Linked DNA regions of Homo sapiens: region 2 is linked to region 1. The links come from fine-mapping of genetic effects on gene expression. Tissue or cell type: prefrontal cortex. Region 1 holds a variant in brackets; the other region holds the start of a gene. All regions are shown on one strand. Distances are between the middles of the regions.

Evidence for each region. PIP is the estimated chance that this variant, and not a neighbour inherited with it, causes the effect.
Region 2: LINC02270 starts here. The variant in region 1 is fine-mapped to the expression of LINC02270 in prefrontal cortex (CommonMind, PIP 0.95).

What each region holds. Positions count from the first base shown.
Region 1 is chr4:12,601,934-12,609,759 of GRCh38, forward strand. All of the region lies in intron 1 of LOC105374492 (a long non-coding RNA gene), which reads right to left. Among named protein-coding and RNA genes, the nearest start is that of LINC02270, 380 kb to the left of the region's middle. RefSeq lists enhancers at 7,244-7,759, 7,760-7,826. The variant CA/C (reference allele first, on the strand shown) is at 4,107.
Region 2 is chr4:12,219,437-12,227,262 of GRCh38, forward strand. LINC02270 (long intergenic non-protein coding RNA 2270) reads left to right here and starts at 4,015. Exons shown (of 4, transcript NR_125910.1): 1 at 4,015-4,192.

The DNA.
Region 1 (7,826 bases):
TGAATGAGAGACACACACAGGAGAGTGGCATAATTCAAAGGCCTGAGAGCATGAAAGCCAATGGTTTAGGTGTCAGTCCAAGGGCAGGAAAGGATTGATGTGTCAGCTCAAACAGTCAGGCAGAGAGCCAGCAAATCCTCTCTTCCTTCATCTTATTGTTCTATTCAGGCCCTCAATGGATTAGATGATGCCCACTAACATTGGAAAAGATAATCCACTTTACTCAGTCTTATCAATTCAAAAGCTAATGTCTTATAGAAACATCCTCACAGAGAGACTCAGAAATATTAGATCAGTTGTATTAGTTCATTTTCATACTGCTGATAAAGACATAGCTGAGACTGGGCAATTTACAAAAGAAAGAGGTTTAAAAGTGGACTTACAGGTCCATGTGGCTAGGGAGGCCTCACAATCATGGTGGAAGGCAAAAGGCACTTCTTACATGGCAGGGACAAGAGAGAGAACTTGTGCAGGGAAACTCCCGTTTTTAAAACCATCAGATCTCATGAGACTCATTCACTATCATGAGAACAGCACAGGAAAGGTCCACCCCCGTAATTCAATTACCTCCCACCGGGTTCTTCTCATGACACATGGATATTGTGGGAGTTACAATTCAAGATGAGATTTGGATGGGGACACAGCCAAACCATATAATCAGTACAAAAGTAGTTGTGGTTTTTGCCATTGCTTTCAATGGCAAAAACCACAATACTTTTGCACGGATATATTATTATTTAATTGTATATCTAGCCATTCCATGATCTAGTCAAACTGACACATAAAATTAAAATTAACTATCACAGCTGTAATACCACAAACATTCATAATATCCCTTAATCTGAAAACAACCCCTCCTACCAATGTCTTTAGTCCCACCTCAATTGAGTTCTACTTGACAAACATTCTCTAAGACACATTTTATGCCCCAAGCACTGAGTTAGATGCTGAGGATACAGTTATGAATAAGACAGGGTCCCACTAACTCATAGGCCCATGTGAGAAGTAGCTGTAAGTAGATTATTTCAGTGTATTATTATAAACTCAGTAATAAAGATAGGCATTGAAAAAGCTACGAAAACAGGAGAGGGGGCCGGGCACGGTGGCTGACGCCTGTAATCCCAGCACTTTGGGAGGCTGAGGCAGGTGGATCACCTGAGATCAGGAGTTCTAGACCAGCCTGGCCAACATGGTGAAACCCAGTCTCTACTAAAAACACAAAAATTAGCCGGGCATGGTGGCAGGTGCCTGTAATCCCAGCTACTTGGGAGGCCAAGGCAGGAGAATTGCTTGAGCCGAGATTGCACCATCACACTCCGGCCTGGGGGACAAGAGCGAGATTTTGTCTCAAAAAACAAAAAAAGAAAGAAAACAAAACATAAGGATTCCCTAAATGAGGGGAATCTTTCTTCTATATTCATATCCAAAAAAATAGGATATCTATCATATCTTAAAAAACGCTCCTGCAAGGTGAGAATGTTATTGTTTGCTCAACAGTATCACTAAAAAGCCCTAAGCCATAAAATTATAAATTTCAAACTGACTTTAATTTTGAAGTTTAAGCAATTTCACCCACATAACAACCTCTAGAAATAGTGGCAACTTTTCTATTTCAATATAGGGTGCCAATTATCTCTTATAGCCTTTTAGCTTAAAGCAACAAACTATACTGACTTGATCCCCTTAGAATAATATGTTTTACTTACTAAATTCTTACATTTTCTGGTATTCTAGACTAGGGCATTGCTCATTCTCAACAGGGCACAGGTGAAAAAGGTGGAGAGTCTCCTGAAGCTAGGGATGGAGGTAAGGAGAAACAACGAAAGGCAGGAAGACATAGCTAGATAATGAGATGCTAAGCCAGCTCAGGAGTCAGAGTTTGAGTTAGGAGGTGATTAATAGCAAGGGTGTTTGGTTGTCAACTTTCTCTGAAAGCAGAGCAATCTCTGTGAGTAGGCCAGGCTAGTGTTCCCTTTGAAGCCTGGTCCACTGCTGGAAACCAGGTTGGTAACTCTTTCTGAAAAAGTCAATCTGACTAGCCAGGGAGGTAGTGCTGACCTCCACTCTCCCACAGGATGGCTGATACTGTATTATGCCCTGCCCTTCATGATTGGATATGGAAAGGAAACAAGCACAGCCACAACTGGTTGCACCACCTTGGTCTTTGGAGGTTACCATTAATCACACATTTAGAAAAAAGCAGCATGCCAGGAACGGAGAGAAAATGTCAGAAACATGGTGAGGGATTGTGAACATAGCAAATGGATTGCTATAGAAATTTTTAATGGAATATTTAAGATCTTGGAACAATAAAGAGATACTATGGAACAAACAAAGACAGGGCAAGATACATACGGATCAAGGAAAGCTCAATACCTTTGAACTTATTTAATGCTAAATGTTAAATTTTATGCCTCTGGGGTATTTCTTATATGGTCTATACCTTGCCTGTATCTCAGTTTTTCTCAAAGTAAGATGGACTGCTAATAATGCCTATTTTATTATAGAGTTCTGTGAAGGATTGTACAAACACATACACACACGAGTGTGTATATATACACATTTTAAAATTGTGGTGGCATGGCTCATAGAAATTCAGAAGGAATTCAATAAATATTCATTGCTGTTATTGTCTTTATTATTATTGTTTTTTTTTTTTTTTGCTTTAGTTCAACCATAACTCTTCTGCATTCCCAGTAATAGAGAGTGAGGGACCTGGCTCTTCTGCAGTTTTTCATTATCTGCTATGCCTCAAATTTATTATGTTAATCCAATCATTATAAGTTCTGCTTGGACACAAATACATATTAAATGTGATCCATGGGTCCAGAATTGTGATCGTCATTAGCTGACCCTTTCATTATGACTAAAAGAAGTATTTTAGTATTTTATTTTGTAGCTAGTGTCTGACGCAGTTTTAGTCTCCATGAGGTTACCACAACTGCCCACACTTCACAGAGAAGACAATTGAGAGTCAGGGAGGTTAACTCATAAAAACATCAAAACACCTGGGTAAATTGGAAGACCCTGGATTTGAAACGAGGGCTGTTGTGTGTGGAAGTTTGATCTCTGTACCCTTCCTTCTCCTGCTTCCCTATAATGTCCTCATCAAGAAGTCATAACTGAACCTCAGTTGCTCCATTTCTGCCTCCTGCCTTGCACTGCTTCCCAGCCCCAAGAAGTCATCGACTTGTGCTTCAGAAGGGTCTAAGGCATATTTCTTAATTCCACATTTGTTCACCATCCTTCTATTTCTTTCATCTGCTGAGCATTCAGACCTATCATCCCTCCGTTCCTTCAGTGAATGTCAACAGCCAGCTGGTGGAGCCTCCTTCACTCCCTCTAGTGAATTATCCCCCTAGATTGCTAACGCCTGGTGGTTCTCAAAGTGTGGTCTCTGGGACAGCAGCAGCAGCATAGCCTGGAAGCTTATTAGAAATACAGATTATCAGGCCCTATCCCAGACCTCCTGCATGATAAACTCTGGAAATAAGAACCTCTAGGTGAGCTTGATGCATGTTCAAGTTTGAATAACACTGTAATAGTTTAGTAATGTGAGCAACACACATATATACCCACCCCTTGTTCATTTGTACAATGCTGAATGAACCCTGTCTTGTTCCAATTCATGAAATCATGTAATGTAAAATTTTCTAAAATATGCTAAACTGTCACTGATATAAATTGAGCACGCTTATCAATTAGATGAGTACAATAAAATCGGACCTTTGGGAAGTGCTTGTTAATAGGATGGGAGTGGGGGTTGGAGAGAACACAGAGAGGACAAAAAATCGTTTGAACATATGAATACTGAGTTCTAAAGTAAATTGCTACATGTAAACGAAATTTAAGGAGTCTGAGTCACAAATAATACACCAGTTTTGAACACTCAAAAGGACTTATTCTTATGTTGATTTCTGGTGCATGTGCTCATTCACCACTTATTCTATACAACAAAGTCTAATTTTTGCTTTTCAAGTTCTTAAGGAAAACTATAGACCAATGCAGGAAATTGGGGAGAGGCCAATTCCCACAGAGACGAGGAAAATGTAATGATTCATAAAAGCTATAACCTGAGGAAGCACTGATTCGGGCCAGTGCTCATA[CA/C]AAAAAAAAAAAAAAAAGTCTTAATGAGGGAAGAACAGTTAAACTTGGAGGAACTGAACAAAGTTCTTTCAAAAATCTGAAAAATTCAAAATTTTCAAGCACATATGGCTTGGACCCCCACATTTCAAAGAGGAGATAATAAACGTGTTTTTTCCCGGCCACCTCCCCCAAATGCACTTGTCACCATTCCCTTTCACATGCAGTTCCTTTTCTCTCCTCTACCTAAAAAATTCCTACGCATATGACAAGAAACTTGGGGAAGTGATCTTGTTTCTCACAATCCCAGACAGAGTTGCTGCTTTTCCTCTGTTCTTCCATTGTGCTCAACATTTTTCCAGAGAAGTGATTGTTATAATATCACACAGTTACACAGATTTTAAAATCAAGCTCAGACTCTGAGCTCCTTAGAAAGGGTGAGATAGAAAGAGTCAAGAAAGAGCTGCCGAATAAGCAGGACCTCATCTAGGGGCTCAAATATCTTAAATCTTTTTGTTCTAAAAAATTCAGAGAAACAGGAGAACAATTCCGCAATGTCAGTGCTAAGTAGGGCATCCTTGAGGCATATGCCTTCAGAGAAGGGAAGCTGGCCAGTTCCCTCTCCTAAATGGCTCTTTCCTCTTCTGTTCAGAACCACAGAAAGAGGCAGCCTATTACCATTATATTACTTTATCCCTCTTGAATTGCCCTTCCACCCCCCACATAAAACTCTTAGTGTCATCCGTCACCACACCTAGTCTAGCCCGCATTCAAGCCCTAATAAGTTTCTTTTTACCACAGGTGCTTATTGCTAAGACTTTAATGAGCTACAGATTGTATTTACTTCTCTTGTAAATTGTTCATTATCCTTGCAAGAAATGCCACTTTCTTGCCATTTCCATTACTGGAGATACTCAAACTGAATCACTTTATGTGTACTTTTATTTTATTTGCAAATCATATATATCCATCCTTCAATTTCAGTTATAGGATGAATCAAATATTTACAATGTTCTGATACCTTCAAATTTCTAAAATAAATTTTTCTGATCTTTTGTAAGCTGTAATAATTTTTTTCCAAAGACTATAGCACTTGGCCTTCAATTCGATTCATAAAATAACACAACGCATGAGGTGCATACACCCTAGAGTGGTGGAGAACAATGGCTCCAGAAACAGGCTGACATGCCTTTTACAGGGGCTGCTGATATTTCTAGGAGCGGGATATTTAACCTCTCTCATAACAATAATGGCTAATATTTATCCTAAACTCGCTTAGTGCAAGGTACTCTGCTAAGCACATAGCATGCATTATCAGCTTTACAATAACCATAATGCAAAAGTATTATTCTCTTTTAACAGATCAGGAATCTGAGACACAGAGAGGTTAAGCAACTTGCTCAAAATCACACAGCTAGTAAATAGGGGACCAAAATTTAAAGCCAGGCAAGGTGCCTCTGGGGTTCACTACTACTGCTTTTAAATGTAAGCCAACTCTTCTGTAAAATAGGGATAATAATATTACCATTCTCAGGGGTTCCTTAAAAGGAAAACCGGGGGGCTAAGATACACATCACAATGTCCGCCTGCCTAGCATGGAGAGAGGTCTCCTGAGAGAGGCCAAAATGAGGAACTTCCCAAGCACACAGGCAAGTGATGAATTAAAAGTTATGGAGAAAGAAAAGTCAAATAAATGATCAAGAATTTGAATGGGATATAGAAGTTGAGAGCAACTACACGTGAAATTTGGCAATTACAACCACAGTGCATGGCAAGCTTTTTAGGAATTTTCTAAAAACTTTTCAAAAATAAAACCTTAACATGTGGTTAGTTGTCTCTACCTTTTTGAAAGCTCAAATGCATCTAGTTGCTTCTTTACTCACCATTTTGGGAAATAATACCCGGTCCCTACTTGCAAAGCCCTGATAAAAGGAACACTCTTATCAGAAGTGTAAAAACATAAAACTTGTTATATCCAGTTTTCTATTCTTCTCAGGTTGTTCTTTTTTCCCCTGATCTTTCTTTTTGTATCCACCTTTATCTCCCTAATAATTGCCCAGCATTCTGGCAAAACTTTAAATGTTTTGCCATCATTAATGGAAGGAAGAGAAGTAACTTGTTAACTGTCATATCTGTACTAGGCATTGTACCAGGACCTTAGTGTAACCCACTCAATCCTCATAAACTCTGCAAGAAAGATCCTCCTATTCCATTTTACAGATGAGGAAATTTGCCTTAAGCCTGTGGAACTGACCTTACCCTTCAACTTGCCTGAGATCCAGACACAAACTCCAAGGAGTTCATTCTTACGTGAACCCGTATATAATACAGATTACATCACCAAAGAAAATCCCATGCATCCGTTCTAAAGAAAAATCCTTCTGTTCCCTTTTTACTTATTAATGCAGCAATTGCTTTTCTCTTGTGACTGTGTTTGCTTCTCCTAGGAAGAGACACCTGTCTTTGCTCAAGGTTTTTGTGACTACAGATTGATAAACAGTTTCTTTCTCTGGTTTCTAGACTTCATGGGGCTTGCTTGCTTTTGGGATCTGATGCCCTCAAAGGCAGAGCCAGTGGTCCTTATTAAGAGATTCCCAAGTTTAGAACTGTGTTTAGAACTCGAATTCCCAACATTCATTTGCTAACTTTTAATTAGCATATTTGCTAACTTTTAATTAGCATGGTTTGGCTAAAGGCAAGATACAGGTCCAATAAACTGAGTGCTGTCAGGTCCCCTTCCCAAATCTGGCCAGGTGCTTGTACGCAGGTCAAATAATCTCTTCTCTGTCTTACCATTTCGGCCTCTGCCATACAGAATGTTGTTAACATACCTTAATTCTGAATCATGATATTCCTGTTCTTCCTGAGGATTTTTTTTTTCCTCTGACTCTTACTTTTTTCTAGGGCTGAAATTAGGTCACTATTTCTAGAATGGCATGGTTTTATTTTCCTTTTTCCCTTTTCTAGGTTGCCAGCAATAAAATAATAGAAGCTGACGTCCTAAAATGGGAGATAGAGGAAAACTGCGTTCCCATTTTTATATCAGAAATCTAAGCTCCCCGAAGGCTCTAACAGAGATAATTTCCTTTCATTCTAAAATTGTCTCTAGAATAGCATATAGGCATAGAATATAGCATTTTTCACTGCATTTTTTTTAACATGTAGGTAGGTTGATTTCAAAGACTCAGATGAATCCCTGAGGAGATATTACCACAAAGGAAAATAACCAAAAAGACAGTATGCACTAAGCACTTAAGTGAGCTAGCAGTTTGCACTCAGTCACAAAAATGAAAATAAAAGCAATATGAAAGGGAAGAACACTGACCTAGGAAGCAGAATGCATGCATCTGACTCCTTCTGGAGTGTGACTCCACATTAGTCACATTGTCCATCTGGCCTGCTGCCTTCAGCTGCACAAAATGTCAATGGTGTTGTTGAGAGGTGACAGCATGCTGGCAGCGCTCGCAGCCCTTGCTCGCTCTCGGCGCCTCCTCGGCCTTGGCGCCCACTCTGGCCGCGCTTGAGGAGCCCTTCAGCCCGCCGCTGCACTGTGGGAGCCCCTTTCTGGGCTGGCCAAGGCCGGAGCCGGCTCCCTCAGCTTCCGGGGAGGTGTGGAGGGAGAGACGAGGGTGGGAACCGGGGCTGCGCGCGGCGCTTGCGGGCCAGCGAGAGTTCCGGGTGGGCGAGGGCTCGGCGGGCCGCATTTAGAGCAGCCGGCAGGCCTGCAAGCCCCGGGCAGTGAG
Region 2 (7,826 bases), 380 kb before region 1:
CTGAGCATCAAATAACTTATATGTATATATATATTCAAGAATTAATTCTGTGAAGCTACTTAGCAATAACTTGGCTTCTAATAATAATACTTAAATAACTCCCAACAAAGAAAAGAAAATGATTTATTCCCTGCATTCTTTAATTGATATGCATTGCCTATGAAGTCAATTTCAGATGGATGAGTGTGCTAGTCAATAGAATTCACTTGGATGTTTTTCTTGATTGCTTTATCCTGAATTGCAGTCAAACAGCCATAACATTATTATGGTCATCCTCCTTAATATTATCAGAACTACAAAATTTCAAATATAGATATTCTCAAACAAAAATTCATGTTTCCCTCTATAGGCCTCAGTTTCCTCTTTTGTAAAATGAATGAGTTTTATTCAAAGTTGCCTGTGTCATTTCTAATACTCCAAAATTATTTACAGTTAAGAATGAATAGCTCCACCAAGTATTGGTGCACAGATGTATTAATTTGAGCTACAGCTTTAAAGCATCTATAAAATATGTACTATGGAAGAGAAATAAGGGCAGCAAGAAAGGATCACCTGGGAAATATCGATGATTCCTTTGAAAAGTATTCATTTTAATTAGAATGTCCTATTTCAATTTATAATGAATTTACCCTCTGAAATTCAATTTTCAAAGTGAGCTTGGTCAAGCTGGTTCCATTAGAGACTGTGAAACATGATGAAAATCTCAACTGGAATGAAGATTCAGTTATAGAAAAATAAATGAAAAAAAAGATAGGGAAAAAATAGTACTGAGTAAAGACAACTGTTTCACTATTTTGCTTTTTTTATTTTTAAGAAAACAGTGTGCTTAGGTGAAAAATATATTTTTAGTACTTCTTACATTTTCCATAATCCATCACTGCCTTTTCACTGAATGGCTAACAAGTGAAGATGGGAAAAGTTTGAATCAATGTGTCAGGGCCCACTTTTAAAGCAGTCATGTTTCAGTTCTATATTAGGAACACAGCTGCCTTTTTCTTATGGAAATGAGATTTTCATGTTGAAAAAAAAAAAAAAAAACCTCTGCAACTTTAGAGGAGAAAATGTAGAATATTTGTAAGTGAATGTTGCCTTAAGAATGGATAAAGTTTATTAGAAGGGGAACACACTTTTTAGATATGCTCTAAAAATACACATTGTGATTTTCAAAACACAAAGCTGTGTCTCAACATATTGGCCACAGGCATAGTGATAAATTACAGTTTCTTTTTGTTGTTCCCTGCTTATGTATGAACTATGTAAATATGATCATAAGTTACTTGTGTTTGCACATGAGATATGTATAATTTTGAATTGTCATTGCAGAAGTGCTATAATAAATTATTAGTGTTGTTGAGTGAGTATTTATCAAGATTATTCTATTCAATTGAAGAAAATATTTTTTCATAAAAATGAAAACTTGTCATTTAAGGTACCATTCAAAAAGCAAGAGATATGAAGAGATAAAAATAAACAAAATACATAAACAAAAGAGAAAAAACTGGGGAAGAAGGAAAAAGGAAGTTACCCTAAGAATTATATTTAAGCAGATTCCCAGAGTACTTGAAATACTAGTGACTGACACACATACTATTTTTTAAAAATACTCTGTTACTAATTCACACCTGGTTGGCAGAATAGGAGGAGCACAAATCTTAATCAAGAGACTGGTTTTGAATCAAGCTTTGTTGTTAATTAGCTGGGTACCTTTGGGGAAATTACACAACCACACCCAGCCCCAGCTTCTTCATTTTAAAGTGTGTCTTGTAGAATGAGTAACTGTGCCCTAAAAAGAAAATGGGCAATGCAGAAGTGTCCAAAGTAGAAAGTTCCCTGAGTAACGACTATCCTGTGCACTTTGAGATTCATCAAAAGACGAGTCATTGTGATCTTAACTCAACTCCAGGAGACCTAAAATCCTGTGAATTTTCACAGTATAAAGTCCAACCCTGGCTGGATAAAGCATAATGATATTTTCAAATTTATCCATGTCTTTTGGCGTAGAGTGAGCATGCCTAATGAGTCACCAACTTATAAAATCGTGACATCCTTCCAGTCAATATATAGTAATTAACCACCTACTCTGTCTCAGGCACTGTTCTAACTAGGAAATTAGCAGTGTATACAACAGTCTCTATTGCCACAGAGCTTCCATTCTGGCTGGGGATGAGACAGACAATAGTCATATAAACCAACAGACTTGCTAGTTTATAAATACTATGAAGAAAGATCAAACATGAAGATCAAAGAATAATTGCCCCATTTACTGAATGCTTTTAATGCGAAGTCATTTAATATACATTTTATTCTAATCCCAACAAAAATTAATATCATTTTTCATTTTACAGAAAATGAAACTGAAACTCCTAAATTTTGTTACATTATCAACATTTTACAGTAGAAAAGTAGAAACGCAGACTGGGAATTCAAATTAGTATTTTGACCACAGAGTCACTTTCTACAACAATACACAGTCCCATTGATCTCATAAGCACTGGGCATACTTTCTTCCTTAACAGAAAACATTTTCTTAACCTTATTTCGGTTATAATGGAAGTAGGCATAACAGTAGATACTTGTTGGGAAACTATAATTGCTTTTGAAAACATATTCATAAATCAGCACTTCCATACAAGAAAAGTGGCACATGTGCAGAATGATTAATCTGTAATACATTTTACAAATATTTAGAAATCCTCTACTTCAGTACCAGGCACTGCCCCAGACAACTGGTATACCACCATGTGCAAACAAACTATGGTCTCTGTCTTACTCCACCTGGCATGAACAAGTGGAAACACTGCAAGGTACAGGCCAGAAAAAGATGGTGTGACAGGAGTGTTAAGTAAGAATATCGGCATTGAACTCAGTCTGGATCTGGAGGTCAGGGTCAGAAAGGTTAAAGTTTGTTGAATCTATGTGTGTTTAAAACTTTTAGACAACTTTGTACTCATTGTTTAACTAGTATTAGATAGGTTCTTAGACGATTTAAGTCAGTTTTCTAAAAGGAGTAATATAATTTAAAAAATGTTACATCCAGTTCAAGGACTCAACATTCTGACTAGGCATTTGAGTAAATAATTTATTTTCTCTAAATCATGGGTTCTTCATCTGTTTTATGAGTCTACTAATACACACCTATACTGCTTCATAGCACAGTTGAAAGGCTGTAATGGGAGAATGGATGTAAAAGAAGTTAGTAAATCATAATATTTACATATCATTGTAATTCACTATAAGAATTATCAATTACCTTTTGCTCGATTGAATATAGTTATGAATGAAGAACAGTCTAGTCATGCTAGTCATTACATGGTGTATAACAAATACATGGTGTTGTAGGAGAAACCAGTATGAGAGATGACATTCCAGAGCAGATATTCAATGGATGAATTAGTATTTTTGGCTTCAAATGTAGAATACACAAATGGCAAGAAGCTGGGAACTACTGGAAATATTTATGAGAACTAACTTGTTTGGTATGTACTATGTACCCTGGGCCTTTCTTTTCTTCATGTAACAAAAGGGACATTCCATTTTCCCTGACAGTAGTTTTGGCAGCTTCATTGACAGCACTGTCATCATTAGATAATTAGAATTGTAAGCCTTTACTTTTCTCCATTTTCTATACAGGATTTACTATACTTCCAGGCTCGTCTTCTTTCGATGTATGGAAGGTGAATCACGTGAAAAGCATACTATGAATTGTTAATGTAAATAGTTTAGAAGTAGTAATCATAGAATAGAATGTAACATTTGCCAAATGCTTATTCTATGCCATGCCCTTGATTGTCTTATTTGGGTTCCCCTAGAAGCAGGCGCTCAAACAAGGATTTGAGTACAAGTCGTTTAATAAAGAGATGATTCCAAGAAATGTAAGTATTGGAATAGGAAAATAAGACAATAGGTAAAAAGGCTACGGAAGGTAGATTGTCAGACAATTACTACAGTGGGCCTGCTTTCCCTGAGGGAACCTGAAACAAAGTATAAGATATGACCCTTACAGGCATCCTGCCTAACGAAGAGGACACTGGGGCATTTAACTGCCAGTGCCCAGCAGTCGTAGTTGAGTCCTGCTGATGAAACAGAAAACCTGCAACCTGCCCTGTTTGCAGGCAGAACAGACAGTTAAATATATCAGCCAAGGAACAGCAGGGGCTGGTAGCTGAAGTTTGGACAGTCGAGCCCGTAAATGGTAGGGAACGGATTTGTCACAACATCAACTTTGCACGTATTATATGATACTTTTTTTTATTATACTTTAAGTTTTAGGGTACATGTGCACGATGTGCAGGTTTGTTACATATGTATACATGTGCCATGTTGGTGTGCTGCACCCATTAACTCGTCATTTAGCATTAGGTATATCTCCTAATGCTATCCCTCCCCCCTCCCCCCACCCCACAACAGGCCCCGGTGTGTGATGTTCCCCACCCTGTGTCCATGTGTTCTCATTGTTCAATTCCCACCTATGAGTGAGAACATGCGGTGTTTGGTTTTTTGACCTTGCGATAATTTGCTTAGAATGATGGTTTCCAGCTTCATCCAGGACCCTACAAAGAACATGAACTCATCATTTTTTATGGCTGCATAGTATTCCATGGTGTATATGTGCCACATTTTCTTCATCCAGTCTATCACTGTTGGACATTTGGGTTGGTTCCAAGTCTTTGCTATTGTGAATAGTGCCGCAATAAACATACGTGTGCATGTGTCTTTATAGCAGCATGATTTATAATCCTTTGGATATATACCCAGTAATGGGATGTCTGGGTCAAATGGTATTTCTAGTTCTAGATCCCTGAGGAATCACCACACTGACTTCCACAATGGTTGAACTAGTTTACAGTCCCACCAACAGTGTAAAAGTGTTCCTATTTCTCCACATCCTGTCCAGCACCTGTTGTTCCCTGACTTTTTAACGGTCGCCATTCTAACTGGTGTGAGATGGTATCTCATTGTGGTTTTGATTTGCATTTCTCTGATGGCCAGTGATGATGAGCACTTTTTCATGTGTCTTTTGGATGCATAAATGTCTTCTTTTGAGAAGTGTCTGTTCATATCCTTTGCCCACTTGTTGATGGGGTTGCTTGTTTTTTTCTTCTAAATTTGTTTGAGTTCTTTGTAGATTCTGTTAGCCCTTTGTCAGATGAGTAGATTGCAAAAATTTTCTCCCATTCTATAGGTTGCCTGTTCACTCTGATGGTAGTTTCTTTTGCTGTGCAGAAGCTCTTTAGTTTAATTAGATCCCATTTGTCAATTTTGGCTTTTGTTGCCATTGCTTTTGGTGTTCTAGAGATGAAGTCCTTGCCCATGCCTATGTCCTGAATGGTATTGCCTAGGTTTTCTTCTAGGGTTTTTGTGGTTCTGTGCAGTCTGTAGTATTACCAATGCTAATTATAAATGAAGAAACTGAGGTTCAGAGAAGTTACTTAATTCACTTAAGGCCACACAGCTAGTAAGCAGAGGAAGTGAATTCCAAACCCAGGATTTCATCTGACTTCCACGCTTCGACTCTTGACCTCTCATTAATACGTTGTTTACTTGGCAACTGGTCAGTTTGGAAAGTTGGCTTTCTCTGGGGAATATCATGGGGCTAATTGGGAGATGCTTTCAATCACAATATGTTAATAATCTACAATAATTCAAAAAAGTGTAATAGAACTGTGGAATCCCTGAAGTAAAACATGATAAACCTCCACTTCTTTCTCTCTCTTTGCAGTGTTCTTAAGTATTTGTTCCAGTGTGTAGATGTTCCCGTTATGTTTTTCTGTATGCATATGTATATGGGAAATATTGAAGTGGGACATAACAAATATATATTAACTTTGGGACATTTTTATTATTAGGGGCTAGGCTTAAGGCATCTCATCACCTGTTTCTAGGGTGTTAATGAATGTTGTGGGTGAAATAAATTCTCTTTAGCTTGCACAAGCTGGATTGGAACTCCACACTGGATTTCAGGGAAAACATGGCTTTTAAGGAAAAGAAAGAATTCAAATAAGGATAGAATATAGGACTCTGAAAGGTACAGAGGAGAAGGAATGTCATTCCAGGTAATAAAATTTGGTATGAGGATATTTGTGGAAGTAGAACTCTGCAAAGTGCATTCTGAGGATATGAACAAAACAATTTCATAGAATGGAATTTATGAGACATATGGGACTCAAGGTCATAACGCTATATTGAGGCCAGATTGCAGGGGCTCTTGAATGCCAGGCTTAGAAGTTTGAATTTTACCTCATCCTTTTGGACCTAGAGAAGACCTTTGCTTCCATAAATAAAAGGACAGCATTTACTTCCTAGCCATCATTACAGCAGAATTATTGCTTCTGCTATGCCAACCCTAATATTGCCTTTTTGGTTTGTTTTTCTTTATTTCATGATAAAATAAACTAGTTCACTGCAAGCAATTTTCTACAATAGCCAAACTGTAAAATAAAAGTCCTACGTAAATTCACCCCAAAAATGTCAGTTTAGTGTACCTTCCACATATATATACACGTGTATCTCTCATACACACAGACAGTCTCAATCAGCAAGCTGCTCCTTTGTAATTCCAAATTTATTCACTTGATATAACATTAATATATTTATGTACCAAGATGTATCAGTCTAACTCAACATGTTTATGTGTATGTATATTGGTAAAAATAGTTATAAACTACCAAAATCATCCATAATCTTACCATGGCTAGAAATAAATATTTATATTTATGAAAGTAGCTAAAGATTCCCCTGAACCCATTCCATTCCATTTGTATAAGGTAAATCTCTGTACCTTTCTTGACACATTAATATGTATCTTTCCTTTTCTTAAATAAGTATATATATATACACACACACACACACACACACACGCATATTTGTGTATTTTAATAAAAATGTAATCATTTCATACCTATAAAACTGCCTCTTGCTTTTTCTTATTGAATGCTTATGGAAGACATGTACTTTATTCCTCCTAATAGATCAATAATATGAATTCACTCAGCCACTTTTCCTATTGTTGCAAATAAGTTTTTTTCCTTAGTGTGGTTTCTAGCCACGTTTATTTTTATGGATTTGTAACATATGTTTCAGCTGTGAATATTATGTGGAAACACTTCCACTTGCTGTCCAAACCTCTAATCCAAATTGTGACTCCAAACACAACTCTCTGGACCGTGTTCCATCTGACCAAATCCTCAAGCAAGTTCTGTAGCCCAACACTCATTTGTTTAGTTGCCAACCACATTATTTTTAAATTAAGTTCCTAGTATGTGCCAGAAACTGTGCATGCTGCTAAAGAGTTAAGTATATCTAAGATCTAATCCCTGCTCTCAACGATTTTGGCAACAGCAAGTTGAGAACATAATGAACTTTACGGCAAAGTTTCAAATGCTTTCATAAAAAATTTAGTTTTGTCCCTAACACAAGCTTGACTCATTTTTGTTCCTGTGATTCAGACGTATTTCTGGTATCTGGAGGACTGCGGGTGGGTGTGCACATCATATATGTTCGTATGGTTAACAAACTCAGGAGTTTTTTTGTGAAAAAAAAAATGAATTATCCTAAAAGAGACCTACAAGGAGTATCATGACTGGTTTAAGGCAAATAAGTAATGATCTGATTGGAGGATAAATCTAAAGATCAGAAAATTTGAGCCTATGCAGTGTTGAGCACCAAGACTCTGAGGTCACAAAGCTATTGCTTCCACTACTCCACTACTTTTCTCCACTCCACTAATTTTCAGCTATGGGATTTTTGACATGGTGTTTATCTTCTCAGTGCCTTAGTTTTTTCATTTCTAAACTTATGATTTTAAAGATCGAAGTTTTGTAAAGCTT